Homo sapiens: one gene and its partners. The protein of the gene in region 1 purifies or fractionates together with the protein of each later gene. This does not show direct contact. Each region holds a gene or a part of one and is shown in the gene's direction. Other genes may lie near its edges. The genes, in order: CABCOCO1, CYRIB, SFXN1, LRPAP1, SLX9 and TOMM34.

The links.
Region 2: the proteins of CABCOCO1 (region 1) and CYRIB purify together in Homo sapiens (affinity purification with mass spectrometry; one large-scale study listed by BioGRID and IntAct). This does not show direct contact.
Region 3: the proteins of CABCOCO1 (region 1) and SFXN1 purify together in Homo sapiens (affinity purification with mass spectrometry; one large-scale study listed by BioGRID and IntAct). This does not show direct contact.
Region 4: the proteins of CABCOCO1 (region 1) and LRPAP1 purify together in Homo sapiens (affinity purification with mass spectrometry; one large-scale study listed by BioGRID and IntAct). This does not show direct contact.
Region 5: the proteins of CABCOCO1 (region 1) and SLX9 purify together in Homo sapiens (affinity purification with mass spectrometry; one large-scale study listed by BioGRID and IntAct). This does not show direct contact.
Region 6: the proteins of CABCOCO1 (region 1) and TOMM34 purify together in Homo sapiens (affinity purification with mass spectrometry; one large-scale study listed by BioGRID and IntAct). This does not show direct contact.

Annotation. Positions count from the first base shown.
Region 1 is NC_000010.11:61,762,021-61,767,266, forward strand, and holds the end of CABCOCO1 (ciliary-associated calcium-binding coiled-coil protein 1), read left to right. Parts: intron 1-3,918; coding exon 3,919-3,993; 3' UTR 3,994-4,746; downstream 4,747-5,246.
Region 2 is NC_000008.11:129,851,683-129,857,090, reverse strand, and holds part of CYRIB (CYFIP-related Rac1 interactor B), read left to right. Parts: intron 1-1,343; coding exon 1,344-1,480; intron 1,481-2,747; coding exon 2,748-2,825; intron 2,826-4,812; coding exon 4,813-4,929; intron 4,930-5,408. UniProt on the Homo sapiens protein: Negatively regulates RAC1 signaling and RAC1-driven cytoskeletal remodeling. Regulates chemotaxis, cell migration and epithelial polarization by controlling the polarity, plasticity, duration and extent of protrusions.
Region 3 is NC_000005.10:175,526,901-175,530,242, forward strand, and holds the end of SFXN1 (sideroflexin-1), read left to right. Parts: 3' UTR 1-2,842; downstream 2,843-3,342. UniProt on the Homo sapiens protein: Amino acid transporter importing serine, an essential substrate of the mitochondrial branch of the one-carbon pathway, into mitochondria.
Region 4 is NC_000004.12:3,524,930-3,530,337, reverse strand, and holds part of LRPAP1 (alpha-2-macroglobulin receptor-associated protein precursor), read left to right. Parts: intron 1-5,286; coding exon 5,287-5,408. UniProt on the Homo sapiens protein: Molecular chaperone for LDL receptor-related proteins that may regulate their ligand binding activity along the secretory pathway.
Region 5 is NC_000021.9:44,970,063-44,975,192, forward strand, and holds part of SLX9 (ribosome biogenesis protein SLX9 homolog), read left to right. Parts: intron 1-3,134; coding exon 3,135-3,203; intron 3,204-5,130. UniProt on the Homo sapiens protein: May be involved in ribosome biogenesis.
Region 6 is NC_000020.11:44,956,616-44,962,653, reverse strand, and holds the start of TOMM34 (mitochondrial import receptor subunit TOM34), read left to right. Parts: upstream 1-2,256; 5' UTR 2,257-2,320; coding exon 2,321-2,447; intron 2,448-3,116; exon of another isoform or gene 3,117-4,317; intron 4,318-4,346; exon of another isoform or gene 4,347-4,361; coding exon of another isoform or gene 4,362-4,410; intron 4,411-6,038. UniProt on the Homo sapiens protein: Plays a role in the import of cytosolically synthesized preproteins into mitochondria. Binds the mature portion of precursor proteins. Interacts with cellular components, and possesses weak ATPase activity.

The DNA of each region.
Region 1 (5,246 bases):
TCCATGAATGTAATAACTGGTTATTGTGTAGAAGGGCAGAGAGCAGTTGAATTAAGCTGAGTTCAGAACATATCTCCTTTTTAGATCTGATAACATTTCATCTAAATATAGTTTATGTATAATCATGGCTCTGGGCTCCTTTGCAATCCTACAGCTCTGAAATTATTGCCGAGGAACTACCAGACAGTAACTGAATTGTTTGCAGGCCCAAAAAATTGAAAACGTCTTTACCAAAGCTGTGTTCCATGCAGTGAACAGTATGTTTTAACTATTCATTGAAATTATTTTAAATATTACAGTCTGCAGCATTTATACCCCTATTCTATATGATAGCTATGTGTCTGTATGTTATCTTCCCATTGGCCTGAAGCCATCCTGGAAGTTCAATAGCTTGCTCACCTAAATGTAATTAGGCATGGAGAGGATGTGGACCAGAGGACAGGGATGCAGAACCGCTAGGTGCCACAATCATTTCCATAGTAAGTGGATTTGTAGACATCAGCCTGGGCCAAATTACTGCCAATTTTTCAATGAAATAGCATGATGATGTGGATTTATACAATGGCTCAAGATGGCAAACCCCTTTATGTATTTTCTATCAGTAATCCTAGTAAACTCCATGTGAGTTAGGCAGGCACTTCCCCTGATAAATTGAAAAATGGGACACAGAAAGACTTAAGTTATTTGTCCAGAGTTCCCAGGGTTGACAACTGATAAAAGACCCTGAATGGGAGCTGTGACCTGGGTTCTAGTTCTAATTCCAGCGTTATCCACAAAAACCACATAACTTCTAATATCACAACCAGACTACTCTGGATTTTAATACTCCCGTGGTGTGGCACTTTTTCCACGTTTACCCTTGTGTCTTGGTCAAATTCCAAGTTGGGTAATTACTCTCTGCTTACCTAAATTCCTCCTCCTATTTTAGATGTGTAGGTTATTTTCCACTTCTAAAACCTGCCTTCCAGTGTTCCTGGCTCTAAGAACTGCCATATCCCTTTTCAAAGGTAGCTATGTGTCAGTGGTCAGTGTATATATGCTATTTGAACACACCGACCTGCTGTAGGAATATTTAATGAATCACTACTCGTAAGATGTTTTAAATTTTCTCACAGATTTTTTTCTCCTACTTTGTTTAAAAGTCATACTGTTATTACAATTTTTGCAAAAAAAAGGCAGTAAATAATTCATGTTTTAAGTACAGTTGTTTTCAAAATTCCTTTTCTATGTGGTTTCAGGCATATTTTACCTTCTCTAATACAGAAATTTCTGAAAATGTAGTATGAATCCATAAGTTTTTTATGTTAATTCACTTATTTTCCCATTGACTCACTTTATGGTTTTAGAGATTTATTAAGAATGAAGTTATCTTGGCCCTGAGATGTTAATTAAAATTATACTGAATAGAGCAAACATTTTAAGCCTGTATAGTTTAGGTATTTTAATTTTAAAGATACATTCAAAATGAAATTATTTTGGCCCTGAGTTGTGTAATAAAAATTATACCCAAGGGAGCAAACTTAAATATATTTAAAGAATTACATTTCAGAGAAATATGAATGCTAACACTAAATTCTTACATTACATGTTGGCTGTTGGCCCTGTGGAAGCAATAGGGTAATATAATATAAAAACTTTGAGGGAAGTTTGCCATCTTGGGACCCTAGATGTTTTTAGGTCAACTTGAATTTTCCAGGTTAGAAAAGCTGAGCATGAAATCATCTCAAAGAAGTGGTCAATGAGAGACTACTGAACATATTTTTTTTCCTTAAAAAAAAAAAAAAGAACCAGACCCAACCATAGTATTTGCAGGATTGCTTGTCTGTTCAGCAAAGTTCTGAAGAATGACAAGGAAACACGGCTAATGACAGCCTGTTATTGACTAGACGTGGAGCCTTTAGATCCAAACTCTGCTGGTTGTGACTGAACTAAAGTACTAAGCCTAAGGTCTGGAGATCTGAGACATTACTCACCTCTGTCAGTATGCCACTCTCTTAGCTGCCCCTTCATGAACCTTTTCCCAAGGCCTACACTTGTTTTGATAAATTCTGTCTCGGTAAAATACCAGAAAGGCCTCCAAGTGAATGTAAAATCCCTATGTGGTAGTGAAACAGAAACTGGTAGATGATAAGCACATCAATCCTTAGCTGAAAAGAAATGAGATTACTGGTGGGCATAGAGGGACATTAATTGAAAGTGGGAAGAATCGATTGTTTGAGTGGCGCAATTCTTCCCAATCCTTTGAAATTGTGGTAAAATTATTTCAAACCATTTTAATCCCTATGTGGTCCAATATGTTGTATCCCATAAATTTATTTTAATAAGGCAGGAGTAACAGATTTTTAAGTATTTCATGACATCATAACAATGAAAGATAACATTGGTGAAGTATATCACAAAATTGGAAGTTGGAATTATGAATTCAAAAACTAAAGTTTGATATTAACATAATCCTATTCCCCTACTTAATTTTTAAGGTAAGAGCTAAAATCCAGGTGGTGAAATGACTTACCTAAGGTGACGTAGCTGAACTAGTACCTAGATCTTCCCAGTCCAAGATCAGTGCTTCTTTCGACCCTACCTAAAATCATGCATAGATGATGATTTCTTTAGAGTCAGTGCATCCTAAAGGAAGAGTTCCTCTGTGACCTGGAGGACCGCTCCATCCCTCCTTGCCTCCTCCACCCAACCACCAAGAAAGGAAAAGATAAGAAACCAGAGGCCGGAGCTTGATCCCAAGGTTTACTAAAGCTTGAACCAGAAAAGACTGATACTTATGTGAGTTCTGAACCCAGAATTGTTGGCACACATACGATCTTTCCAGAAATATCAAATCTTACTGTGAGGTGAAATCAAATCTCATCAGATAAGGCAGCATGGACATGTCACAACTATCTGTTATAGTTACACTCTTGTAAATAAATATGAAAAATTATATCTGGGCTTAAAACAGTATTTGATTTTTTTAAATGTCTTCTATCTAAATTAAAATAATAAAAGGTTTGCAAAGTACAGTTACCCTGAAGCCCTCAAATAATGTTATAGCTATTAGAAATCCAAACTTTGAATTTATTAACACATATGTGTATAAGCTACTCCTTATACAGCGGTAGACATTTTAAAAATCACCTAAACAACAACAAAAACATCAATTTTGCCACGTCAACCACCACTGCTTTTTCTGTATGTAATTTTATTATCCCTTGTGAAAAAGGGAAGACATTTCCAGGGCTACTAATGTTCAGTTAATGTGAACGTATTTATGGAATTGTGCAGGTAGCAATGTGAGTCCACAGAAGATCGCTGCCAGAGGCAAAATGCTATCACCACCTCGGCAATCACAAAACCTGAGAGCAATTGCTTACTTTTTTTACCAAAAATATATCAGAAAGTGGCATCATTCCAAGAGTTCTAATGTATGATGAATACTCTTAATTATGGGAGTTGTTCTAATTGTAAGGTTATTTGTGTTGTTATTTCACAACAGAAGCTTCCTGGGATCTCATTTAGAATGTATTACACGGGAGACACAGACATCCATTGCAGATGGTGGAGGGACCCACAGCACTGCAATAACTGAGCCCAAAGCAGTTATTCTGATTCAGTGCTTATTGGTAAAGTCTGTCTGAAAATACAGATAAATTATCCTATCTTCCAACACAAGGCTTTGTGAAAAATGGCTGTCCAAATACCACTTCCTGTTCATAGCAGACATGCTATACATTGGAAATGTGCAGAGAAATATGATAAAGTGTTATCACATCACTACAGGCTGAAACACAGCTATGTCTGCAAAACAGGAAGGTGTGTGAGGGATAATATCTGTCTTTAGGCACTATAGTATGTCAAAACCACAAAGACAATGTGCAGCAAAAGATAGCTCCATCATAACCACGTTTTTTATGATTGTCTTCACAGACCGAGATAAACGAAAAACTGCAAATACAGGAAGAGGCCTTTAATGCACGAATAGAAAAATTGAAAAAGGCCTAAGGACTTGGTACAAGGAGAGTGATGCTAAACTTCACAGAAACAAACAAAACCAGCCAGAATAACAGACTCTCTGGAGCGTCGTGTCTCCATCACTTAGTTGTGAAAGGAAAACCAAGCCCCACTTTTTATTTTCCTAAGTAATTAGAAAAGTATTGGTCCCAATTTTGCTATCTCCCATCCCATAACAGCCTCTGAATTTATTGCACCAAGTGTAATGAGAACATTTTGTATACAAGAGTTTGAAAAATTATATATAAAAATACAATTACTTTTATGATAGTCCTTTGACGTTTTGACTAATAAATCCTATTCATCTTCAAGGAGAATGAAGTCAACTTTTTAAATAACCAGAAATAAAGAAAGATGATAATAACTTCATCCATTTTGACCCAAACGGACTGCCACGTTACTGGAACACTGTGAAAACATACCAGTACCACACTATTGAGGATAAAATTTGTTAAACAATAGCAATTCAAATGCATATATGAGGTTTTTTTTTTTTTTACTGAAATCATTTGGTTTTCTTATTTAAACGTTTCAGTGTGAAACCAATTTTCTGAAATTATATAATGCAGTTTGAAGCACTTTAATTTATTCTGTACTGTATTTGTTATTTCTAATCTTGTTACTCTCCCAGGAGAATACATGACCTATATAAAAAGAAGCAATGTATAAATGGTTATTAAAGACCAACCTATATATAGATTGTAAAAATCTTAAATACAAATCAAACTCATAGAGTTCCCAGAATTAGCCATTATATTGAAGTGGAATGATTTTTAAAAATCTCAAGTCTTTAAATACCTTTATTAAAATATAATTTCAAAAGAAAAATATCAATTTGCCAGCTGATTGTCCCCAGTTGGACAAATTAATTAATTACTACCGAACTCTTTTCCAAAGTTCTTATACTTCAGAGTTTACTGGAATGGAGAGCATTGCTAGGAGGTAGCAGTTTCTTCAAAAATTTTCCAGGCTATACAGTACTTGGATCTGGGTGACACTTGATTGGATATCAGCTTTAACCCTACTTTCTCCATCAGTTCAAAGAAACTGCCCAAACTATATTCACTGGGGGCACAGGCAGATCTGACAGCATTTGGTAATTTTCTAACTACACTGATCAGCAAAGTAAGAGTACCCCTTGAGGTAAAACAATGTTTATTGTTCCTGTAGTTCCACAACTAAAAGGTCTGGAGATGTGTTTCTTCTCTGAGCTGTCCTTCCTGAATGAAAACGTTGATGGCTGC
Region 2 (5,408 bases), on another chromosome or scaffold:
TTTAGAGTTATTACATGGATGAGAAATAATGTCTGTGAAGAAATAGTTCAGTACCTGGTATCTGACAGACACACAGGAAGTACCTACTATTGTTTTTAATCAGTAGATTAATGTTTTGTAGGGTTACAGAAGTAATTGGTACTATTGGTAGTAATCAGGAGGTTAATGTTTTATAAAGTTACAGAGGCTACGTACAATGTTGCTTTATTTCAGAGACAGTTTATTGTGGTAGAAAGAATAGGGCTTTGGAGTCAGAAATACCTAGCATTTACTAGCTATAACTTTGGGCTCTAAGTTCTTTGAAACTCATTTGATCCATCTGGAATGACCATGTCATAGTTGATGGTAAAAATCAAATGGGAGACTATATTCAGTGTACAGTAGATGTTGACTCATACGTAAATCTTCATAAATAGGAAAACTGGGGTTTTTTTAAAGTTACGGGCTGATGACCTGACATAAAGTTTTAAATTTATCATTAATATTTGTTTGTTAATCTGACATTTATTAACATCAGATCATAGTTTAACTCTGTAAGCTCTTATTTTCTCTGACCAGAATCTAGCAGCATTTTCCAGTTCTGTGATCTGTAACTGAATTCATTTGATTTCTATGGCTTTTTGAAATATTGAAATGAAATATTAGTATTTAGTATTTAATATTAGTATTAGTATTTAGTATTTCCATTATCAAACATGGTATTTATTAGCCTGGCATCCCAAAAGTAGCACTTATTTCAAAGGGACCATTTTGCTCACATAATGAATTAGAATATTTATATTGTAGTCTTGAAATGTCAAGTTCTAAGACAAGAAGCTTATTGAACCACATATTTTGTTCTCTTTAGTAGCTGAAAGCAAACAGTTTGTGGTTATAAATAAAGGATGTATTCAAAGTATGAGAAATTGGTAATTGATTCATAGGCATATACAGACAGTGTGGACACAGTGCCATTGAAGAAAGTTACTCAGCTGTAGATAATAGTTACCATTTCATAAAACCAAATTCCACACTGTGTGAAGTGATTAAAGTAATATAAAACTTGCCCTTTGGTGTTGAATTCAAATTCACTTCTGCACTATTTTCAATCTGGGTTTACAGAATTATAAACCCTTGAATTAGTCCGTTTAAGGTTTTTATTCTGTTAAATAGTATTCAGAATGTGTGTAGTACATTAGCAATGGCAACATTTAAACTTCTTAATTAGTTTTATTATGTTTAGATCATCTGTTTTTTAAAGAGAACTTTTCTGGGAATTAACATTTATGAATTGTTCACTTTTTAATAAACAAATATCACACAGATACAAACAACTTAATGTTTTTTTCAATTTTTTTCTTTAGAAGCAGCATTAAGAGGTCTTCTGGGAGCCTTAACAAGTACCCCATATTCTCCCACCCAGCATCTAGAGCGAGAGCAGGCTCTTGCTAAACAGTTTGCAGAAATTCTTCATTTCACACTCCGGTTTGATGAACTCAAGGTAGAATTATCTATTGGCCCTGATTGTTACGAAAATCATGAATCTTTTAATGAGTACTAGGAGGAAGAGCCGGGAAACATTGTTAAAATGTATTTAAATGATGTCTGCTAGACCTTAATAAAAATGCAAAGCTGGATTTAGAAATTAATGACGGGTCTTTTGATACATGGCAAAGAGCAAATTACTGAGTATTCGGTCTCAATCTTTTTTTTTTTTTTTTGAGGCAGAGCCTTGCTTTGTCACTCAGGGTAGAGTGCAGTGGCGTGATCTCAGCTCACTGCAACCTCTCCCTCCTGGGCTCAAGTGATTCTCCCACCTCAACCTCCCAAGTAGCTGGGATTACAGGCATGTGCCACCACGCCTGGCTAATTTTTGTATTTTTAGTAGAGACGGGGTTTCACCATGTTGGCCAGGCTGATCTCGAACTCCTGACCTCAGGTGATCCACATGTCTCAGCAGTCTTCATTTAACCTTGTTTAAAAATTAATCTCCGAAACAAAAGGTTGAGCTTTTTTTCTAATACTTTTTCTTTTCTGCTCACACCCTCTACCCCCGTTTTTCAACATTCTTTTATATTAAAATGTTGCTAAAATTTCTTTTTTCTCCCTTCCTCCTTTCCCGCTTTCTTCCTTTCTTTCTGTTTCTTTTTTCCTCTGTCATTGTTTATAGTGTTTGGAACTATAAATACCTTGTTGTTAAAAAGAATGAATGTAAAGGAATAAGCACTAGGTCTCATATCAAGAGACCTGAGTTCCAGTTTATACTCTGCCACAGTAACCCTAGTCATGAGACGTTGGGCACGTCCTTTGATTTTTCAGGGCCTCTGGTACCCTGTCTAGAAAATGGAAGAGCTGGATTCCAAACTTCAGCATTTTATAGTTGTATCACAGTCAGATTTGTATGTAAAATTCTAGTTTGAGGATTGCTCTGTTGACCATACCTACATACTTTTATCGTAATAACTAAAAACAAGTGCCTAAACAGTCCTTTTTGTTTTTGTTTATTTGATAAACAAGCTTTTAGTACATTACCTGAAATTAACTGAAAAGAAAAGGGAAAGTATACTGCCTGTGGTCTTTCGTTTTATATGTTCAGTAAGGACTAAATACAGTTATAAGCCACCTTGGATTATACCAGTGCTAGTTCTTAAAATGATACTATGAATTATGGAATGTTTTATACTAATTAAAACTAAAGATTTTTTACTTAGTTTTTTTACATTAGCATTTAGTACATAACATTTTTTTTCCACAACTGTCTTCTTCAGATGACAAATCCTGCCATACAGAATGATTTCAGCTATTATAGAAGAACATTGAGTCGTATGAGGATTAACAATGTACCGGTAAGTTAATGCTTTGAATTAGGGGGATGGTAAGAGTAACTTAGTGCTCAGCCTGTTCATTTTATTATTTTGTTTGTTCATTCAGATAGTGTTAAAGCTAGTAATAAAGTTAGTAATTATGGGCAGCCATAGCTGTAGGAGGAAAAGCAAACTGTAACAAACCATATGGTGTTTACCTGTTTTTCTTCACAGTCTCTTAAATTCCCACAACTACTTCAACAAAATTGCTTATCTGTATAACGTTGATCCTTATAAAATTTCGCGATGTACTCTCATTTTAACTGTACAGAAATTCTGTGAATTCATAGTTACGAGTTTTTTGTCTCTATATTCTTAGAATGGAAGAGTCTTGGAGAGAAATTGACGTGGGTTAATTTCTTGGAGAGAAATCTTGAACCCAAGTCCGTTTTCCTCCAAGAAATTAATGGTTAATGCTGGCAAGAGGTGATAGTGAGGTCATGGCCTGTTAACACATCTGTGCCTGATATAGCTGTTTGAGAAAATGGCTTTGTGCCTGCTCCTTGGCTAGTATAGCATTTCTTCTGGCTTCTTTAGGTCTCTTAACTTCTTACCATCCTCCTCTTAAGCTGTTTATTACTCTTTTCTACCTCCAAGGAACTAAATACCATAAGTAAAACTAGAGCGGAAGAAAATATTAACTTGTTCTCTGTGTTTCTGAGAACCTTATAATTGGTCTGAAAAATTTCAAAGATCAACCCTTGTTTCAAATAGATAGTTTAATAGAGAAATACTGTAACTATGTAAGGAGTAATAAGTGGCATAAGATATTTAAAATATATATATCAAAGACTATCATTCATTTTCTTTTTCCTTGAAAAAATATTTTAGGAAGCACTTGCACTAAGGCACTGAGTTGGAGGAAAAGATTCCTCTTTATGAAACATCTGTAATTTGCATCAATTTGATTTTTGCATAGACCAGTTCCTCGTGTGAGACTGACCTTAACATCTGTCTTTTTCATACCTACCATGTAAAATAAGATAAAAGCAAAAAGCAAAGCAGCCAATCCTATACTATACCCATCCTTGCCATCACTTAAGGCTAAAGACATTAGTCATCTTGGTTCTCCCTTTTACCCTCAATAATTACAGGTAAAATCCAATTTTTTTCAAGTGAAATATCTCTGAAATGTCTTCTCCATCCCCCTTTCCATCTCCTCCTCCCACTGTTCCAACAGAGAGCCTAATTCCCACTCTTTCTGGCAGTCACTCTGCACAGCATAACTCATTTTCGGACCTACAAGTCTTTTTCCATTTTGGTACAATCTGCCCACGATTATCAGTTAATTTTCTTTAGGAAACTGACTTAGTTGTCATTCCTTTCATCTAACACACTGAATGGCTCCCCATTCCACATGGAAGAAAAATATGAACTTAAGCTAGCATTTATGGCACTATACAGTCTGACCCCAACCTGTATCTTTCGTTGGTTGCAGCCCCTTATTACACTGAATATGCTGAATTACTCTTTAGGGAGTCATTTGAAAACATACTCTTTCCCCTGCCAGATTGGAATACCTTGTTTACCTGCCCAATATGACCTGCAAAAGGATAACTCTTCTCCTTAGTTTCTTCTGTTCCAACTTAATGTTCTCTGACTCCCTTTTTGTGTTATCACCTGTTAGAATCTTACCATGGATGTTGTATGGATACTTATTGTTCATAATGGAGGACGGTACAATTTTATAATCATTTTTCTGTCCTCCATAACATTTAGAATCTCTTGTATGTAGTAGACAGTTCATCAAGGTTTTATTTAAATTCTTTAATATCATTTAAAATATTTTTGAAGAGGTTAATCTTTTTTTAAAAAAAATAACTTTTTTTTAAAAAGAATATTTGAGTATTATCGATACATGAGAGTCTAAAATGTAATTGAGGCAGGCACCCTGCCTGGGTCCTTGTATAATTGTTATTATATGTAATAATTTGTGAACTAACATCCAGTGCTTTTACCTTCCCCACAGGCAGAAGGAGAAAATGAAGTAAATAATGAATTGGCAAATCGAATGTCTTTGTTTTATGCTGAGGCAACTCCAATGCTGAAAACCTTGAGTGATGCCACAACAAAATTTGTATCAGAGGTAAGCATTGCCTAGGCAGGTACTCTGTGTTGTTATTTATGCCCCTGTTGGCAGACGTGATGTCAGCAAGCCCAAGACATTAAATACCATCTTGAAACCAACAGACTCCCAGATGTATGTGTTGAGTCCTGACTTTTTTCTGAGGCCCACATGTGCACACCTGTCCACGTATTTGCAGTTTCTCTGGAGGGATGGTGGAAACCTCAGTGATAGCTGATGGCATGGCCAAACCAAACTCTGGGTTGCGTTTTCTAACCCTGCCCTTTCTTTAGTTTTTGCTTTCTCAATTAACAGTACCAGTGCAGGCAAAAACTTACAACTTATGTCATCCTAAATTCCTTTCTTTTTTTTTTGAGACAGAGTTTCACTCTTGTTGCCCAGGCTGGAGTGCAATGGCGTGATCTCAGCTCACCACAAACTCCGCCTCCCGGGTTCAAGCGATTCTCCTGCCTCAGCCTCCCTAGTAGCTGGGGTTACAG
Region 3 (3,342 bases), on another chromosome or scaffold:
GGGCCAAGTGCCTGATACTCCCTTACACTGAATCATGTTATGATTTATAGAAATACCTTTCCTGTAGCTTTTATAGTCATTGTTTTTCAAAGACGATATACCAGCCCTCACCCAGGTTTTAAAAAAGCACTGGTAGGCATAGAATAGGTGCTCAGTATATGGTCAGTAAATGTTCTATTGATTATCAATCAGTGAAAAAAGAAATCTGTTTAAAATACTGAATTTTCATCTCACTCCCATTGCAAATCAAGGAGATCTCAGCAGTGAACTGGGAAAATACAAAAGCTCTGGGCTAATCTATAAAAACTTACCCTGAAATATTAAGGGCAGTTTGCTTCTAGTTTGGGGATTGCGCTAGCCCAATGAAGGTGATGAAGCTTTTGGATTTGGAGGGTAAAAGCTCCTTCACACCCCTTCCAAAAGTCAGTCACAGACCACTGCAACATGCCTTCCCTGCTGGATCATTATATACATTCAGATTGTGAGTGGATTGCCTTGGTTGACTTTTAATTTATTGTTTTTTGTTCTTATAAAGATGATAATCTTACCTTGCAGTTATTGACTTTATATTCAATTATTTACATCAAATAATGAAATAACTGAAATGTACAAATGTCAAATTTTGGAAGTATATTCAATACCAATGCTGTATGAGTGGGCTGAATCCAGTTCATTGTTTTTTTTTTGGTAAGAAGTGAGACTACAGTTCCAGCTACCTACATGTCTTTTCTTGTCATCCTTATAGATCTCTTTGGCTTTCAGAAAGATACAGTGATAATGTGTGTATGAATCAGTCACAATGAATTTTACTTGAATATTGTATGTTGCATTCCACTTCATTTGAAAATAATGAAACCATGTACCACTGTTTACATCATCTGTAGTGATTTCATAGATAATATATTTAATATGACAGATTATGTTTCAACTCTGTAGATGTTTAACGTCATAGACAGTTGGCCCTCTGTATCCGTGAGCTCTATATCTGTGAATTCAACCAAGTTTGGATGGAAAATTTTTTTTTTTTTTTTTTTTTTGAGACGGAGTCTCGCTCTGTCACCCAGGCTGGAGTGCAGTGGCGTAGTCTCGGCTCACTGCAAGCTCCGCCTCCCGGGTTCACGCCGTTCTCCTGCCTCAGCCTCTCTGAGAAGCTGGGACTACAGGCGCCCGCCACCACGCCCGGCTAATTTTTTTGTATTTTTAGTAGAGACGGGGTTTCACTGTGGTCTCGATCTCCTGACCTCGTGATCCGCCCGCCTTGGCCTCCCAAGGTGCTGGGATTACAAGCGTGAGCCACCGCACCCGGCCTGAAAATATTTTCTAAAAAGATAAAAAATATACATAACGATGAAAAATAATACAAATTTAAAAACCAATACAGTATAACAACTATTTACATAGTGCTTACATTGTATTAGGTGTTATAAGCAATCTAGAGATGATTTAGCAAGTATACAGGAGGATGTGCCTAGGTTATATGCAAATACTGTGCCATTTTATATCAGGAACTTGAGCATCTGCAGATATTGGTATCGGAGGGCGGTCCTGGAACCAAGCATCCACGGATACTGAGGGGTGACATTTCATGAAGTGTAGATCATTGTATTCAGAGATTGTAAATGAAAAAAATATAGAAACTATTTAGTTTTGGTAGATTTTTTTTCTGACAATGTGACCAGACTGAATTTCCTCATAAAGAAAAAATGGCGTGCCTTGTGTCTGTGTTTCTCTTTTCTCTGAAAGGATTAATAGATCTGAAGCTTTGGGCCACTCAGAGCCTTCCTTGATGCTGCCAGAGTCTTCTTATTTAGATTTTCTGTCTTAAACCATTGGAAGCAAAACGGTTTTCCCATGACATTCTGGCCTTGGACAGATTCTGTTGTCCTCGACGCGTCTCTTTATAAAGTGGTAAAAGCCTGAAATTCAGGGCAGCTCTCCATGAGGTGCTGAAGGGCTCTTTTCATAAGAAGCTAAGGCACTGCTGCCTGCCCCAGGTGTCCCGCTCCTCTCAGAGTCCTCCCCCTACCAGGTAGTGTGTAGCTCCATTTCAGAATGTTAACCTCCAGTGAAGAGCTAATGACTGGTTAGAAGATTGACAAACTAACCAAAATTTTACACACTCCGGTTATGTGTGTGAAAGGTTATAAAAGGAATGGCCGGGTGCGGTGGCTCACCCCTGTAATCCCAGCACTTTGGGAGGCCGAGGCGGGTGGATCACCTGAGGTCAGGAGTTTGAGACCAGCCTGGCCAACATGGAGAAACCCCGCCTCTACTAAAAATACAAAAAATTAGCCAGGCATGGAGGCACATGCCTATAATCCCAGCTACTCGGGAGGCTGAGGTAGGAGAATCGCTTGAATCCGGGAGCTGGAGGTTGCAGTGAGCCAAGATCGCACCATTGCACTCCAGCCTGGGCAACAAGAGCGAAACTCCATCTCAAAAAAAAAAAAAAGAGATTATAAAAGGGATGATGAACATGGAGCTGCATCTTTTTAAACGTTGTTTTTTGATGCTTCAGACTCTTAATGCTTTTATATAAAGCTATCAACTGTATGTTGATCACAGTTTATAAGAAAGAACAAATCAAGATTGGCAATCCTTGCCGATCTTTTAGAAATACCTTTTCTGGAGAAAAAAAAATCCACATGAAGTGCAATAAGCTTATAAAGCTAAGTAGTTATTAATATTTCTATTAACATGATACAAAGGATGATGATTGTAAGTGTTTACTGACTGGCAGCTTTTATTTCAGTATTAGCACAGCGTCTTGCCAGTGTTGGAGGCCATGTATTATTTCAGTTCAACTGGATGAAATGTTAAATAAACTCAGAATGAAAATAAATTCTCTCTTTTATTTGTACATAAAGGATAAAGCAGTTTGTGTGTTACAACTGATGGTACTTTTCATTCAAAGTTAATATCTACAGTACCATCAGCAACTCCTAATGAAAAGATATTTTTGTATTATGCCTTTAACAAGAAATATATTTCTATTTTGGGCTACCAGTCTCCCACCTTTTTGAACCTCATATACATAAAGGCACACCCACCCACCCCCCAAACTCCTATGACAATGTGATTCCAGGAATATTAATGATGGGCGTGGGGGATGGATTTCAGCTTGAAACTTGGATGGCCAACACCTCTGCACATGACGGTGATGGAAACATGCTTCTATATTATTGATCTGATTCTAACCTGGCACTGGCATTTACTAACAGAGAAAGTCTAAATTAACCTAAGTTTGGGGAGTGCCTTAATAAAAGACTTGATACAGAGCTGAGCATTTTAACTTCCTTGGCCATGTTTCTGCATTTGTTTTGCTACAGTAACTCTGTTGTC
Region 4 (5,408 bases), on another chromosome or scaffold:
CAGATAACGGAAGCTTGGAGGGTGGCGGTGCTGTGAGGGTGTTCTATCCTGGAGCCAAGTGTGCAGGCGTCAGACCCGTCCGGGTCTTTTTGAGGTTCTCAGTGGCGGTAGTGCATCCCGGGTGGTCTTTGTGCTGTGGCTCTTTCTGCCGAGCGTGCCAGGGCCCAGGGTGGTCAGGAGGCAGGAGGAGCCACAGTCAGTTCAAACGTAGGGGGAGAGAATTGTTCGTGCAAATAGTCACTCCAGTCGGCTTCTTACCCCACCTGACTCGCCGCTCTAGGTAGGTATCAGACGGAGACGGGGTCTTGGATCGCCCCCTGGAAGATAATTGAGGTGAGGGCTGCTTTTTCAGAGAAGCACTTCCTGCCCGGCTCTGCAGCCACTGCTCTCAGCCTCCTGCGACCTGCGCTCAGCAGCCAGGACGGTCTTGTCCTTTCTTTGGTTTGCTTCATGAAAACATCGTGTCCCTGTTTTCTGCATGTAAAGCCACATCCTGGCATATAGGATTGCGTAGTGTGTCAGTAGGCATAGGGTGAAGGGAGCGTTTCAGGAAACCTTTGCCTTTGATGGGCTTGGGCTGTGAGACCTGCGTTGAGGTTGCCGCCAAGAAGATGCTGAGACCCGCTTTCATCAGGCGAGACCCGGCCAGGGGGGTGCTGCTTCATCCTCTCCAGCAACTTGAATCTTGACTTTCTGTGACTCTCCCAGTTCCTCTTTCACAGGCGGGCTCCACTGTGTTGCAAGACTCCTGAGCAGAGGCTGTCCCTGGAGCTTTGGAGGTCAGAGGCCATGCAGAGCCCTTGTGCTCACAGACGACTTCTGAGGACTCTGCCTCTTCAGAGCTCTGTGTGTTGTGTTGATGCTGAGGAGTAAGCTCCAGGGTCTGCATGGTCCAGCTGCGGCGCTCAGGGACACACTCGTGTACCTCTTGGCCTGGGCTGCACGGTGCCATGAGCTCGGAGTCCTTGGCCATAGGTCCTTAGTTTTTTTGGTTTTTTGTTTTTTTGTTTTTTTTGAGACAGAGTCTCACTCTGTCGCCGAGGCTGGGGTGCAGTGGCGTGATCTCGGCTCACTGCAACCTCCGCCTCCCAGGTTCAAGCGATTCTCGTGCCTCAGCCTCCTGAGTAGCTGGGATTACAGGCATGCACCACCATGCCTGGCTAATTTTTATATTTTTAGTAGAGACGGGGTTTCACCATGTTGGCCAGGCTGGTCTCGAACTCCTGGGCTCAAGTGATCCTCCCGCCTCTGCCTCCTAAAGTGTTGGGATTACAGGTGTAGTCCCAGGAGGCACCGCACGCAGACAGTCCTTAGTTCTGACGTGAATGGTGACTGCAATGAGAGTGTGTGAAGCATCTTGTTCTCAGAGGTCTGACGAGTGGAAACTGAGGTCTGCAGAGAGGAGCCCTCAGAGCCCCACCCCAGCTCTCAAGCGTCCCCCCTGGCTTGAGAAGGGCCTCTGAGGATGGGCCAGCCAGTGGCCTCCATGGGCACCTAGGACTCGCCAGGCCAATGCATGACCTCACAGCAGCTCAAGGCGGGTACGGCTGTGCCCTTGTCCACGGAGCTCAGGTGGAAGGAGCTGGGGCACAGTGGCTGGGCTGGGACAGTGCATGCCACCTGCCGTGGTGAGACAGGTACAGCGTGCCAGGAAGCCTTGGTCACCGCCACAGCCTGCTCCTCATGGTGGGTGCCTTGCAGTCTGGCGCGGGCACTCAGGTGAGCGCTGGGAGGATGGCACATGCCCTCTGAAGAGGTGGTCCATTGGCGGTCCTGGTGGCATTGGAACCTGCCCAGCCTGAACTGTGCGGTGTGTGCAGGTTGACACCAGTGGTGTAGCTGTGGACCCTGGCCTGGGTTTCCTGGGGCGTTGAGAAGCAGCAGCAGGTTATTGGAAAGTTCCAGAAAGCTCTGCTGGCACGCGGGTGGTGCTGTGTGGGGAAGGGCCACTGCTGAGGTCCCAAGCAGTGCTGGGCCCTTGGGTCTGGTCAGGAGGACACGGTCGGCTCTGCTTGTGTCTGGGGACACAGGACCGGCGTCGTTTGATCAGCTGAGCCGGCTTTCTTGCCTGCATGTATACCCTGGTTGTTGATGATTTGCCTCGCTGCTTCATGTTTGACAGGTTCTTTTCTGCAGTTGGTTTCCACAGGGTACTTCTAACTTGATGCGTTAACATTTAACTTGAGAGAGGTGAAAGAATCCAGACGTGGGGTCTGGGGTCTGCACGTGACCTGCTGGTCTTCCTCTGCACAGAGCTGGGGCTGCTTTTTGTGGTGGTGCTGCCAGGCTGGCCCCTTCTGCGCTGAGCACTGGCAGCCACACATCAGGGGAAAGGGAGCTGGCTTTTGTGAGACATGCGGTGTGAAATTTAGACCCCCTGTTGCCTGAGAGTTGGGGAATCAGAGGGAGAAAATGACTTTCCCCTGTGGGTTGCAGATTTTACAGCCCACAGAGCACCTGCCCTTGATTCTCCCAGCACCCTAGGGAGGCAGACAGGAAGCCAGTGAGGACTGCAAGTTACAGGGGTTGGTGCCTGGCTGTGAGCCTGCCAGGATGGGCCCAGGACTTCAGCAGCCCTGGGTCTTCAGCTCCGCTTTCCAGCAGGCAGCCCATGGGCAGTCATGGGACACCTGCATCCTCTCCCCTGCAGCCAAAGAGGGCAGACCCGGGGCCCCTCAAGGCCAGCACACACTTGAGAGCATGGGCCTGAATTGCCTGCCCCAGGGTGCTGCTTCTGGCTCAGACCATCACTGTGGGCCTCGCATCTCAGACCCTCCCGGGCAGTGCAGCACGGTAAGTAAGGCGCCTACAGGGTAGCAGCAGCCACGGGGAAGTAGAGATGGAAGCAGACCTGTTCCTCCAGGAGTTTGGGTCACAAACAAGATAGGCAGGTGTGGGCTCCCCCTCCTCCTGAGGCACCGACTGCCCCTCCTGAGAGTTCAGCGTCACTCAGGTGCCTCATTGTCCTGGGTCCTCCTGCTGGGAATGCTCAGATCAGACCTCAGGTCTCCTAGGGCCTTCCAGTGGACGCCGCAGGCAAGTGTCCAGGGCACAGAGGGGCACGGGGTGGAGCTCTGGGGAGAAGGGGCTGGGTGGATGGGGCTGGCTGGGTGGATGGGGCTGGCTGGGGAAGAGGCACACAGGTAGGGGTGTGTCGAAGGCTGCCAGGGAAAGGGTTTTCAGGTTGGGACAATCCTGGAAAGCAGCCCCTGCAGAGATGGGGGCGCAGAGCATCTACCAGGAGGGCCCAGACAAAAGACTGTCCTGGGACCACCCACTAAGGGTTAGAGAACCTTCTAGAGAATTAGAAGCTTTCCTCTGCCCTAGGCCCTGCCATTCATTTTGTGCCTACCGTTTGCTATCTTTTTACCATTGGGGATCTTGGCTCAGTAATCTGAATTCATCCCTAACTAAATTTTAAACTCCTGGAGGGTGGGGCCTGTGTGGCTAGGGCAGCCACAGAGTCAGGCTGGGCTTCTGAGAGAAGAGAGGGCGGAGCTGACAGCCCCAGCACCCAGCTGGAGACAGGGCCTGTGGTCAGGGGTCTCCTTCCTCCCAGGCCCAACACAGACTGAGCTGCAGGGAGCAGGATGGGCTCAGTCTAGATACAGGCAGAGTGAGGCGAGGAGGTTCCGGAGTGTGGGGTGTGCCAAACACACAGAATTGGCTTCGTGCGAGTCTTGAAAGAAACGTGTGCCCCTGCGCGGCGCGGACCTGAGGGCTGGGCCTCCTGAGGTCTCGGGCTGCAAGGCAGTGTGGGCCACAAGGCGGCGCGGGCTGCGGGACACTGGGAAGGCAGCCGGCTCTTGACGCTTCGTGGGGATGTTCACTGTTTTACGTAAACTTTATTGAAATATAACACACATACTTTGGATACTAGCTTGTGTTGTATTTATGTTAGAAAATAGCTAATGAAATATAGATAAAAGATTAATATTTCAAACGTCTAAGGGAAAACAGACTCCATATTTAAACACACATGATCAGAGACAGGCGTTAGGTGATGGGCACCTGGAGCTCAGAGGCAGGAGCTGGGGTTCCCTCCTAGAGCCACGGGCAGCTCATGAGGACCAGCCCCGGGGGAATGTGAGAATGCAGGTGCTCAGGGAAGGGGACCCTCCTGAGAGCCGAGAGATTTGGGGATCTGCACTGCACAGTGCCGAGCACTTCCTTTGCTGCAGGACTCCACAGAGGCTTTAATGCGCTGGCGTCACTACAGGCATGCGGTGCAGCCTCCCCAGTTAGCCAGGGACAGCACCCTGTCTCCGTGAACCCTGGTCCCACCTCATGACACGTTCTGGTTCACACAGCTGGGCCACTCTGCTCTGCACGGAAGAGCCTTCGCTTCCCTGAAGGGCTAGCCTGCCCCAGCGCACGCCTCTTAGCGGCCGGGCCAGCCCCGAGGCCAGAGTTGATGAGAGCTGGCCGGTGGGTTTCATTCTGCTGCTTGCCTCGGCCGCCTGGCATTCTGGCCCAGTCTTTCTGACGTGGGGACACTCTTGGCCTAAATCCTGTCTTTGCAACCAAAAAGCAGTGTGCCCAGCGGTCACCTCACTTGCTTCCTTCTCTCACCCAGGGTCCCAGAGCTGGGAGGGCAGGGGTGGGATGAATGAAGCGTGGCCTGCCCTGCGGAGAGGGATGAGGGTGGGGCGGGGAAGTTCCTCAGCCCCAGTGCGGCAGCTCGTTCCGGGGCGCTGCCTGTGTGGTCTACGCCAGCAGGTAAGTGAGAGGGTGACAGATTCCTGCTCCAGAAGGATCTGGGGCTGTGTAAGAACCGTCTCAGCAAGACAGTTCGGATCATGGTACACTTGAGAGGTGGTGACTGAGGGTCTTTGGGAAATGAAGATGGGGCAGATCTGAGATTACAGTGATTTTTTTTAAAAAAGAACTTCTAGGTGTCTGTGTCCTTGCAATATGTATCTGCAATGGTAATGCAGTGGGTATCTTCTTCCTGCTCTGTTTATCCGAGTGCCCGATGACTGTCCTCAGGTGCTAGGGTGGGGTGTCCTGTTACAGCCGGACAGGAATGAGCAGCCGCTGCTGGTGGGGAGCCCCCGATGGACTTGGGGTTTCCGGATCGTGTATACAGACAGGCCTAGAGACTGGTGTCCATGTTGAGTTCTTGTCTAAACCTGTGGGGTTTGAATCCTGCTGACAGTGACCCTGACTCCACCTCTTCCTGGTCTCCCAGAACCTCCCGGTGGCCAGCCTCCTCCGAGGTCAGTTTCTCGCTGTGTCCTGGTCCGTCCTGCTCGTGGCTCACAGGCTCCTCCCCTTCGTTCGCAGCTGCATCTTCCTCCCGTGAGGCTGGCCGAGCTCCACGCTGATCTGAAGATACAGGAGAGGGACGAACTCGCCTGGAAGAAACTAAAGCTTGACGGCTTGGACGAAGATGGGGAGAAGGAAGC
Region 5 (5,130 bases), on another chromosome or scaffold:
TCACCGTGAGGCTGAGCTGGCCCCTGCTGGGTTGAGACCCCCCCTCCATGCTGTCCGCTTTGGGAGGAAGTCGCTCTGCAGCCCTGGCCTCGGGGTGGGGGTTGTGCTCTACCTCCTGGAAGACACAGCAGTGACAGAGACTGTTTGGAATCCTGCTGGGAAAGGAGCTTTGTCTCTTCTCCCCGTGTATGTGTCGCTCATGCGCCGGTGTTGGTCTGGACAGATGGATGTTTAGTTTACACACAGCGTTACTTGATTTTGGTGCCGAAACTGTTCCAGCATTGGCCGCTGGGAGTTCTTGCAGTTGCCCCCAGCTCCCTTTGGCCCCATTGACGTGGGGGTCGTATTTTTAGCTCTTTCCCACTGCCGAGCACCAACAGGTAACCCAGGCGCATCTTGGACATCTCCTGCCAGTCCTGCTGTTTCTCTAGGGAGCCCTGGCCCCTGTATTGCAGGAGGTGTGAGACCCTGAGATCTGGGGCTCGGTGCGCCTGTCCCAGGATCTGGGGTTTGGCGTGCCTGGGCGGCGGGCCGTGTCTCTGGGAACTGCATCTTGGTCCCGGCAGGCAGGTCTGCCCCACTGACCACCACTCTTGGACTCTGATGTGCTTTGGGCTTGAGGGGTCAGCAGGCGAGCACCAGTGGCCTGGGAGGCTGGAGGGTGGACAGCCTCTCCCTCCCAGCCTGGAGCTCTGTCTCTCACTTCTCCCCTTCCCACCTAGTGGGGAGAACATATGGCTTGGGCTGGCAGAGCTGTCCTTGTGGAACCCAAGCATTGGGTCCTTGCCCCACGGCCCCTCCCAACCCTCAGTCCCCTCAGTCCCCTCCCAACCCAGCTCCCTCAATCCCCTGTCCTGGCGCCCTGCCCTGAGGGCCTCATGCCCCTGGGGTGCAGGATGCAGAGCTGGAATCTCAGAGGCCAGGGCAGGGCCCGTGTTTGGGGTCCACGTCACTCCTGGCTGGGAAGCAGGCATCGAGCGACACTTGACTCCGGTGACCCCCATGCTCTGGACCTCCACCTCCTGTGTGCGCTTTGTGGGCAGTTGTCGGGAGGGGACCCCCCATGCTGTGGACCTCCGCCTCCTGTGTGCGCTTTGTGGGTGATTGTCGGGAGGGGAGTGGTGGTGACGCCGCTGCTCCTGCCTGGAGGGAGTGCCGTGGGGGCTGGTGAGGGTCCACACTGGGCGGAGTTAGGCTCCAATTCCTCCTCGGCTTCCTGCTGTTAGGCCTCGTGGAGTCGCGTCCCTGCCGGTGCTTGCCCTTGGCCCATGACGGTAACCGCCCAGCACTCTGTCCCCGGGGCCCTGAACTCCGGAAACCCCACTGGGTAGGCTGTGCGTCCCGCCTGGGAGGATGGGGTGTGGGACGCGTGGGTGGGGGACGGTCCCCGCAGTGGGGAGGGGAGGTGCCGCGCCTGGCCTCATGGGCACTGCAGCCACCCTGGGTGCAGCTCCTCTGCTTTGGGACCTTGGGAGGCATTGGTCCCACCCCCACTGCTAGTTCATCTCTTAAAGTGAGGGTGCAGCTCCAGGGCCCGAGGTTTCCCCAACCAGGAAGGATGTCCTGGACCCGGGCTCAGGTCTCCTGACCCAGCACGTGGCTGCCCAGAGCCCTGGCACCAGGGTGCACCTAGAGGAGGGGCCCCACGCTGATGGCTTCTGCAAGGATGGGGACCGGGGACAGCTCTGGGCAGTCAGTGAGGGAGCTGCTGCTCAGGGGTGGACACAGGGAGGGGGTCGGCTGGCCAGGGGGGCAGAGCTTCTGCATCGGGGCAAGGCTGGCCCAGGAGAGGCCGTGGGGAGATGTCGTCAGCCCCGGCAGAGCCCCTGCAATGAATGGAGCTGTGGCTTTGAGCGGGCAGAGGGGACGGGAGATGCGAGGGGCTGTCATCTGCCAGTGTGAGCAGGAAGGGATGGGGACTGATTCCTTCCCCAGATCAGCGCAGAGCTAGGGTTAAAAGAAAGCGGGTGCTGAGGGCTATTTTGGGCAGACACAAAATGTCTGTCATTCATATTTTAAGAGATCCATGAATAAAAGATGAAGTCTCCTGGCCCGAGGCTAAGTGTAGGGCTGGTCTGAGGACTCTGCGTCTCTGCCTTCCCGCCGTCGTCTGGGTCCCATCTCACTGTGTGGACGGCAGATCTGAGAAGGCGCCTGGTGTGGCCTTGCGGGTTCTCTGTTCCTTTTAAGGCCCAGGTCGCTGTCCCATGTGAACATTCGGCCAGGTGGGCGGCTGCCTTGGCCGGCTGACCACAAGGAGTGCAGGCGAGCTCCCGAAGATTCCCACGGTTAACTGAGGGTGAGAAGCTCCGCGGGCAGCCGGAGCCTGCCTGGGGTGGACGTCAGAGATGAGAGTGTCCTGGCCCGCCCGTGCCCTTAGTCAAGGCCCAGCTTGGTGGTTTGGAGATCCCAGGACTAAAGGAAATAGCCAGCAGCACTCAGGAAACCTCCTCAGTTCCTCCACCTGTCCATGGGGGACTGCAGTGCTCGTTGGCACCCCCCGCAGGTGCAGGCAGGGCAGGATCTACGGTGGGTCCACGCCCCTGTCCCCAAGTTCAGTCATCAGGAGGGCAGGTGCAGCTTCCCACTGTAGCACAGCGTGCGCCTTCTTCTAAAGAGAGGACCTGGGGACATGTAGGCTTGGGTGGGTGACTCAGCCTTCCTGGGAAGTGGTGTGTACTGCGGGAGTGGGACTGGCTGTGCCTGCCAGGGTCCTTTGGCCCGAAGTGTGAGGTGTCTGCGCAGCCTGCCCTGGCCAGGCAGGTGGGGTGGAGACGCTGTATATCGTGAGACGTGTTCCTGGCTGACCACTCCCTCCATGTCCCATGGAGCCAGGAGGAGCTGCAGGAGTCACCAGATTCCACACGGAGCAGCTTGGGGCCCGCGGTCACAGGACGGTCAGGCAGTTGCACTGCTTGTCCGGGGCGGTCACAGGACGGTCAGGCAGTTGCACTGCTTGTCCAGGTCTCGCCTCCATGGCCACAGTGCAGCTTGGAACTTGTGGTTCTGCAGTGGTTTGGTCACCTCTGGCCACCACGACGTCTGCTCTAAGAAGGGAGGAGCCAGCCTCTGCCCACGGGAAGGTGTTTAGGGGATGCTGGATGCTGACTCACGTGGCTTCTCTGTGTCCACAGCAGGGAGAGCAACAAGCCCCGGCCCTCAGAGCTCAGCCGGATGAGCGCAGCCCAGAGACAGCAGCTTCTGTGAGTGCACCTGCCCACCTCCTCAGGGGTTCAGCTCCTGAGTGCCCTCACCCTGCCCACCCTCTCCAGGGGTTCAGCTCCTATGTGCCCTCACCCCGCCCACCCTCTCCAGGGGTTCAGCTCCTGAGTGCCCTCACCCCGCCCACCCTCTCCAGGGGTTCAGCTCCTATGTGCCCTCACCCCGCCCACCCTCTCCAGGGGTTCAGCTCCTGAGTGCCCTCACCCCGCCCACCCTCTCCAGGGATTCAGCTCCTGAGTGCCCTCACCCCGCCCACCCTCTCCAGGGGTTCAGCTCCTATGTGCCCTCGCCCCGCCCACCCTCTCCAGGGATTCAGCTCCTGAGTGCCCTCACCCCGCCCACCCTCTCCAGGGGTTCAGCTCCTATGTGCCCTCGCCCCGCCCACCCTCTCCAGGGGTTCAGCTCCTGTGTGCCCCCACCCCGCCCTCTCCAGGGGTCCTGAGTGCCTCCAGCCTGCCCTCCCAGGGGTTCAGCGGCTGAGAGCCCCGCCCGTGCCTCTAGTCCCCTCCACGCTGCTCCGCTGGCTCCTGCCTGTCTGCTCCAGGGGGGCTTTTCAGTGCAGTCAGGTCCTGTGGCCCTGGGTCAAGTCCCGCCTCCCAGGAAGGCTTCCAAGGGGAGTCATGGATCTAAAATGATGGGTGGACGCAGCCCCATCTCCGCCCCTCCCCTCCGCTGGCTGGTTGAAATCTGGATGATACGTTTGGTTCTGTGACTGGGCACTGCGGCCCCCAGTTAGCAGGGCTAGGACACTGATTTGCAGAAATTTGTACTCAGTTGTCCTCTTGGGTACAAAAATCTCCAGACCACGCACGCTCTCTTGCCTCTTTGCAGACTCAGCTCCAGTTTCCACTGAGAGAGCCACATTTTACGCCCTTGTAAGATGGTTTTAGTTAGCTGCTGGGATGATTTTTCCTGTGGTTTGAAATGGCTTTACTCAGGTGTTTATCAGTGGGAGCGTTTTGTGTCAGTTCTACCGAGGCCCATTGTGCCTTTCCAGTTGAGAGTCTGAAGTCTGTTTTGTGAGTTCGATTATGCTTAGAAGCTGCTGTCTGTTTTGTGAGTACAGTTATGTTGGGAAGCTGGTGTCGAATGGTAGCTCCAAAGATTTCTTTATTGTCTCGGCCCTTCTTCAGGGGCACCAATTATGCACTTACTGGATCTCTCTAATCTATCTGTCTTCCATCTCATGTTCTCTAATCCATTTTTACTCTAGACACTTTGTAGGGTCTAGGTGAAGTATAGATAGTATAGTAAACTGTCTTTTTTAGTTTTTTAAAAAGTTTTTATTTTTATTTTTTAGAGACAGTTCCTTGCTCTGTGGCCCAGGCTGGAGTGCAGAGGTGTGATCAAGGCTCACTGCAGCCTCCGCCTCCTGGGCTGCAGCGATCCTCCTGCCTCGGCCTCCTGAGGAGCAGGGTCTTCCCGTAGATCTTTGTGTTTGTCCTCTTTGGTTTCTGCTTCTCTGTTTATGAACTGAGTTCTTCCCAGGCCAGTCTTGTCTGGAGACAGTTTGCGAACAGCAGAGCCCTCTCCGTGTGGCCATCGTCCTGCCTGGCCTCCCTCTCCGCCTCTCCCCAGTGCACAGCCTGGTCCGGGGAGCCCCTCCCTGCCTGGACAGGGCGACGGGTTTTCCTCTTGCAGACTGTCTGTCGCCCGCACCCCTCGGTGCCCCCATGTCCTTGCGGTCGCGGCATTTTGAAGCAGCTCAGGTTAACGGGTCTCCTGGTTTCATCAAAGATGGAGTTTGGTTTCTCGCTGCTTCTGAGAGGAGAGCAGGAGGCCCCTTCCTTGTTCACTCCGTGTTTTGGAGCCAGAGGTCTGTTCCCTTTCATGTCCATGGTGCTTTCTGGCGCCTGTGGACAGGGCTCAGGTGTTTGAGTGGCTTGGATCCTTCGATCCCAAGATCCC
Region 6 (6,038 bases), on another chromosome or scaffold:
ACTGCCACACCTCCAGGTATCATATCCTTAACCCAGCACTACCCAAAGCAGAAAAAGAGCAAGAATGGCTACTTGACCCAGTACCTCTCTGTTATGGGGAGGGAAACCTTTCCCATAAACACTCAGCAGACTCTTTTTTTTTTTTTTTTTTTTTTTTGAGACGGAGTGTTGCTCTGTCGCCCAGGCTGGAGTGCAGCAGTGCAATCTCAGCTCACTGCAACCTCCACCTCCCGGGTTCAAGCTATTCTCCTGCCTCAGCCTCCTGAGTAGCTGGGACTACAGGTGCGTGCCACCACCCCAGCTAATTTTTTGTATTATTAGTAGAGATGGGGTTTCACTGTGTTAGCCAGGATGGTCTCGATTTCCTGCCTTGTGATCCACCCGCCTCGGCCTCCCAAAGTGCTAGGACTACAGATGTGAGCCACTGCGACCAGCCTCAGACTCCCTTTTATCTCATTGCCCAGATCAGCATCACATGTGCATCCCTTGATGAATCACTGGCAAGAGAAAATGACATTTTTCTAATTGGCTTAGAGCAATCCTGATTCACTTCCCCAGGCTGGGAGAGTCTCAGGCAAAATTCAGGCTCCTGGAAGCAAAGATGGAAGTCACTGAGTAGCCAGCCAGCAGCATGGGCCTCATCTGGTTTTCCCACCACAGTCAGTGTTCATCCTTGGTCGGGGCAGAGGGCAAGGGGAAGCATTTCAGATGGAACAGCCATCCAGCCCTCAGAAAGCTTATAGTCTGGTGGAGTTAAGTGTATGCAGATCATTATAACTGAATTCCTGAAGGTAGAGACTAGATCTTTATCAATCAATGACTTTTATTGGATGCCAGACCCTATTAGGGTCTTGGATAAACAAAGATAAAAAGGACCCACTTCCTGCCATTAAAGACCTCGCAGTGTTTAAGGAAAACTACAAACTGGCAATCAAAGGGTGACTAATGCAAAGTTAGGGATAAAGCTAGAGACCAATAGGGAGCAAAGGGAGCATAGTGGGGGGTGGGGAGGGGGCTGGAAGCAGGAAAGGCTTTCAGAGAAGATGATGTTTGAATGGAATGTTATAAGTTAATTCAGGATTAGGCAGGAGAAAAAGTATTTAGAAAAAAAAATCCAGGAGAAGGAGATAACAAGCAAAGGCTAGGAAGCAAGAATTTAGTGTGTGTAGATAGCAATGCGTGGGACATAGAGTCGTCAGATGAGGCTGGAGATAAATTGAAGTCACACTCTGTGAAAGATCTTCATCCATTCTGAAAGCTGATCATACGAATTGGGTCATTCTTGTCATATCCAACTAAGACAGAATTGAAAAGCCAGGGGAACAAATACTCAGGGCATATAACATTGCTCCAAAAAAGTAATTTTTTGCAAGCCTGGCTGCTAAAACTGCCTGCTGTAACCTAAAACCAGTTTTATCTAATAGCTACTGAAACAGCCTGCTACAATTCTGAGTTTTATCCACCACTATCACTTACCAATCAAAGCTTGCCAGCTCCCCAAGAAGCTGATAAACCCCCACTTTACTAGTGCCTGTAAACTTCCTTGAAGAGCAATATGTAACATTTCTGTTTTATAAAAATCTCCAAACCTTCTCTTTGTTCTTCTGACATACCAAAGACAACCTGGTCTGTGTGTAAGCCCTGAATTGCAATTCTTGATTGCCAAATAAAATATTTAAACTTTAGAGATTCATCTCTATATGTTGACTTTGACACCATCAATCCACCTGTGCATTAATTTATTAAATAAATATCTATAGAGCACTAGGTACCAGGTACTTTCTAGCCTTGGAACCTTTGCACTTACCATCCCTCTGGCTGGAACAGCATTCCCTAAATCTTGTCTGGTCTCAGCTCAACTATTACCCCCTGAGAAAGGCCTTCCTTCATCCCCTTATTTAAAATAGCCCACACGTGGTCACTTTCCATTGCATTATCCTGTTTTGTTTTCCTTACAGCACTAATCACATGAAATGAGAGTCTTCGTTTGCTTATCAGTTAATTGCCTGTGGGGACCCCACTAGGACATAATCTCCCTGATAGCGGGGCCAGCCTCCTTCCCTGCGTCATCCACGGCGTTCTAGCAACTCAGGGAGCCCAGAGCATGCTGCCGCCCCGCGTGCAAGGGAGCCTAAGTTCCAAACCGAGCACGCGCAGAGGGCGGGACGCTCCGGGCCTCCAGGTCTCGCAGGCCCCGCCCCCTCGCCGCGGGTTCGCTGTTGGGCGGAGATATTCGCCGCCGGCGCTTGCGCCCGGAAGGTGTGCCGCACCACACGGGGGAGGAAGGAAGGAGCTCCCAACTCGCCGGCCTGGCCACGGGATGGCCCCCAAATTCCCAGACTCTGTGGAGGAGCTCCGCGCCGCCGGCAATGAGAGTTTCCGCAACGGCCAGTACGCCGAGGCCTCCGCGCTCTACGGCCGCGCGCTGCGGGTGCTGCAGGCGCAAGGTACGACCCCGGCCCCCATCTCACCTCCGGGCCTGCTCCTCCAACTCCCGCAACCACCGCCCGGGCCTCGCGCGGCGGCCAGCAGTCCTGCCCGGCCCTCCCACCCTTCCAGCCCCTTCCGACTCCGGCATCCTACCAGAAACTTCCTCGGCCCTTTCTTTCCACCTGCTTGTTAACTGCCCTGTTGGCCCCCATCCTAAGTTATTTAGGCCTCGTTCTGAGCCCTGAGAAGAAAGCTAAACCCTCCTCCCCCGCAGCAATTCATTTTTCAGTTAGTATTTGTTGAGTAGCTGTTATATACCGCCTGTGTAACAAGACACAAAAAGTCCCTTCTCTCAAGGACAGCGCATTCTTGTGGGGGCGGTGGGGAGGACGTGAGTCTTAAGCGAGTCAGTAAGTAAACGAGACCTGTGGGATAATCAGGGTTAGGAAGAAGACAAATAGGGTGATGTGATAGAGTTGACTGGAGTGGGAGATCAAGGGCAACATCTGTAAAGAAGTGATATTTGAGGTGATGTCTAAATGATGAGAAGCCAAGCGCACAAGGTTTTCGGTCCTGAAGTGAACTGCAATGAGAAAGGCCCCCCCTCCAAGACGATATAAACATGGTGTGTTTCAGGGGTCAAAGCATAGTGAGCCAGGGCAGGGAATAGGAAGACATGAGGTCAGTTAGGAAGGCAGACCCTTATTTATTGTGGAGGTGTTGTAAACTCTGCTAAGGAGTTCGGATTTCATGCCAAACTGGAAGCTTGGCATGAAAGCTGCTGGATGGGAAGCTACTGGAGAGTTTGAAACAGAAGAATAGCATATTCTTACCAGTTCTCCCAGCGTCCAGCTTTCGTCAGCATACCGCAGACCTTTGCCCAAAGCCCCTTCTCCAGGGTGACTTAATCAGAAACCCTCATTGGTTAAAGCCTTGACTTTTGAAAGGAGCCTTGGATCCTGGTTTCTGTGAGTCACCGTTCAGTACCTATTTCCCTTTGCCGCCTTCCTTTTTTTCCTTTTCTTGGCTAGCATCTCTTGAGTGATTTACCATGTGCTAGACATTTTAGACACGATCTCCTTTGATCTTTATTATGGCCCTGTGGATAAAATGCTTAGAAAGGAGGAGTCCAAGAGAGTTAAATTGGCTCCCTCGGGGTTACATAGTGAAGACATGGAAGAGCCACGATTTGAATATGGATCTGTTTGACTTTGATGCTAAGTCCAAATTTTTAATCATTTTGCTAGACCTCTCCTCACATCCTCTCCAGATTTCATTCTTTTTTTTTTTTTTTTTGTCTGCACTTTTTGCAGTTTCAAGCCACTCCTTTGCCCCCTTCTTTGTTCTAGAAAACTCTCCTTTAGGCCCACTTCCTCATGGCAGCCTTACTTGATGAAGTTGCTGAAGAAGCTGAGGTATTGATGTTGCTGCCATTTTCATTCATCTCACCCCAGCTGGTCTGGAAAAGCTTGTACATTTGTATGGGTTAATTCTGGGTCCATAGAAAAGCTAGCCTGGTATCTAGATTTAGCAAGGACCGGAGTTTGGTTCTGCTGCTGCTACAGATTTCCTAGGTAATTTTGGGCAAGTCTCTTGATTTATCTGATCAGTCTTCTTGATCACGAAGAGAGCTCAGGGAACAGGCTAACACAATGAACCCTTCCAGCAAGTCTATGAAGTGATATCCTCATGTGGTAGGTGGGCACGCATGATCAGAGGGATGGAGTGACTTGTCCGGATCGCAGGGTTGATGCCCTTTCCACCGCACCACTGCTGTTTCTGAGCAACCGTACTCTGGTGACTCAAGATGGATTACAGGTTTTGGGTACTTAGCTCCTTAAGGGCAAGGATGTATTTTACTAGTCTTTGTACTTTCCGTCTCTGGGCCTGGCAAAACAAGAGGGGAAAACGCTTGTTATTGTTGGTATTGAATGAAAGATATCAAATATCAACATGGCAACAGGATACTGAGTGAAAAAAGTAAGTTGCAGAAGGATAGGCAATATGATGCCTCTTAGGAAATGCTTTAATAGACATAAAATGGTATCTTTCCTGTTAACACACACACACACACACACATATATATACATATACATATATATACATGTACATGTATACATATATACATATACATATATACATATATATGTAAATGTAGAACATGCTTGAAAATGTTACATACCAACTTCAGGATTGTACTGGCCTCTGTGAGTCTGGGGAGGGAGCACAGGGATAAGGATGGGGATGGCTGGAGTTTTAGCTTATCAAAAAAATTTTTAAGGGTTGGGTGCCATAGCTCATGCCTATAATCCCAACACTTTGGGAGGCCAAAGCGGGAGGATCACTTGAGGCTAGGCATTCAAGACCAACCTGGGCAACACAGTGGGACTCTGTCTCTACAAAAACTTTAAAAATTAACTGGGCTTGGGGGTACACACCTGTAGTCCTATCTGCTTGGTAGGCTGAGCTGGGAAGATCACTTGAGCCCAAGAGTTTGAGGCTGCAGTGAGCTATGATTGTGCTACTACACTTCAGCCTGGGCAACAGAGGGAGACGCTGTCTCTAAAAATTAAAAAAGTTGGGAACTAATATAACGTGCTAAATCTAGTGGTGGATTCTGAGATAATGGTCTTCTGTATGTTTCAAAATTTTCAAAAAGAGACCCTGTTTTCAATTCTTTTTAAAATAATGGCCGACACTAGTGGGTATGAAGTGGTTGAAAATTATCTTTAAAAATAAAGATCATTGTTGGTTGGGCACGGTGGCTCACGTCTGTAATCCCAGTACTTTGGGAGGCCGAGGCAGGCGGATTGCCTGAGGTCAGGAGTTCAAGACCAGCTTGGCCAACATAGTGAAACCCTGTCTCTACCAGGCGTGGTGGCGAGTGCCTGTAATCCCAGCTACTCAGGAGGCTGAGGCTGAGGCAGGAGAATTGCTTGAACCCAGGAGGTGGAGTTGCAGTGAGCGGAGATCGCTCCACTGCACTCCAGGCTGGGCAACAGAGCAGGACTCTGTCTCAAAAAAAAATACGTAAATAAAGATCATGGTGGCCACAGTGAAGGACTTGAGCCTCTGCGATTCCTGAGGGTAAGGACTGCCTTAGAAGAATGTCTAATAATTCTCCCCATGGGGTAGCTTAAGACTTTTTCCTGATTAAGTTCTCTGTACTCCCATCACACCCAGCTCAATTATCATTTCCCTGACAAAGTCCTCCCTGGCTTGACCAGGTAAAACTAGTCTCATGTCTTTCATGGGTGTTTTGTGCCCCTACAACTTTTGGTCAATCCATTTATCATACGTTTATCATCTTGTTCCCTCCCTCCCTCCCTTTCTTTTCTTTTTTTTTTTTTCTTTCTTTCTTGGATTTAAATGCTTTTTGTAATAAAATACACACCTATCCATCCATTTATCCACCCAAACCCAAGTAGTTACAGCATGGATTTCTTTGAGGCAGAAGCTAGCTATTTCTTGTTTATCTTTTGTCTGTTATCAAGTTCAGTGCTGGAATGAGTGAATGAGGAAATACTTGGTTCCCTTTGAATGGCAAAAAGCGCAGTGTCCTTCTGTCACATAAGAATGACAAACACGCCAGCCCAGCAGACCAACAA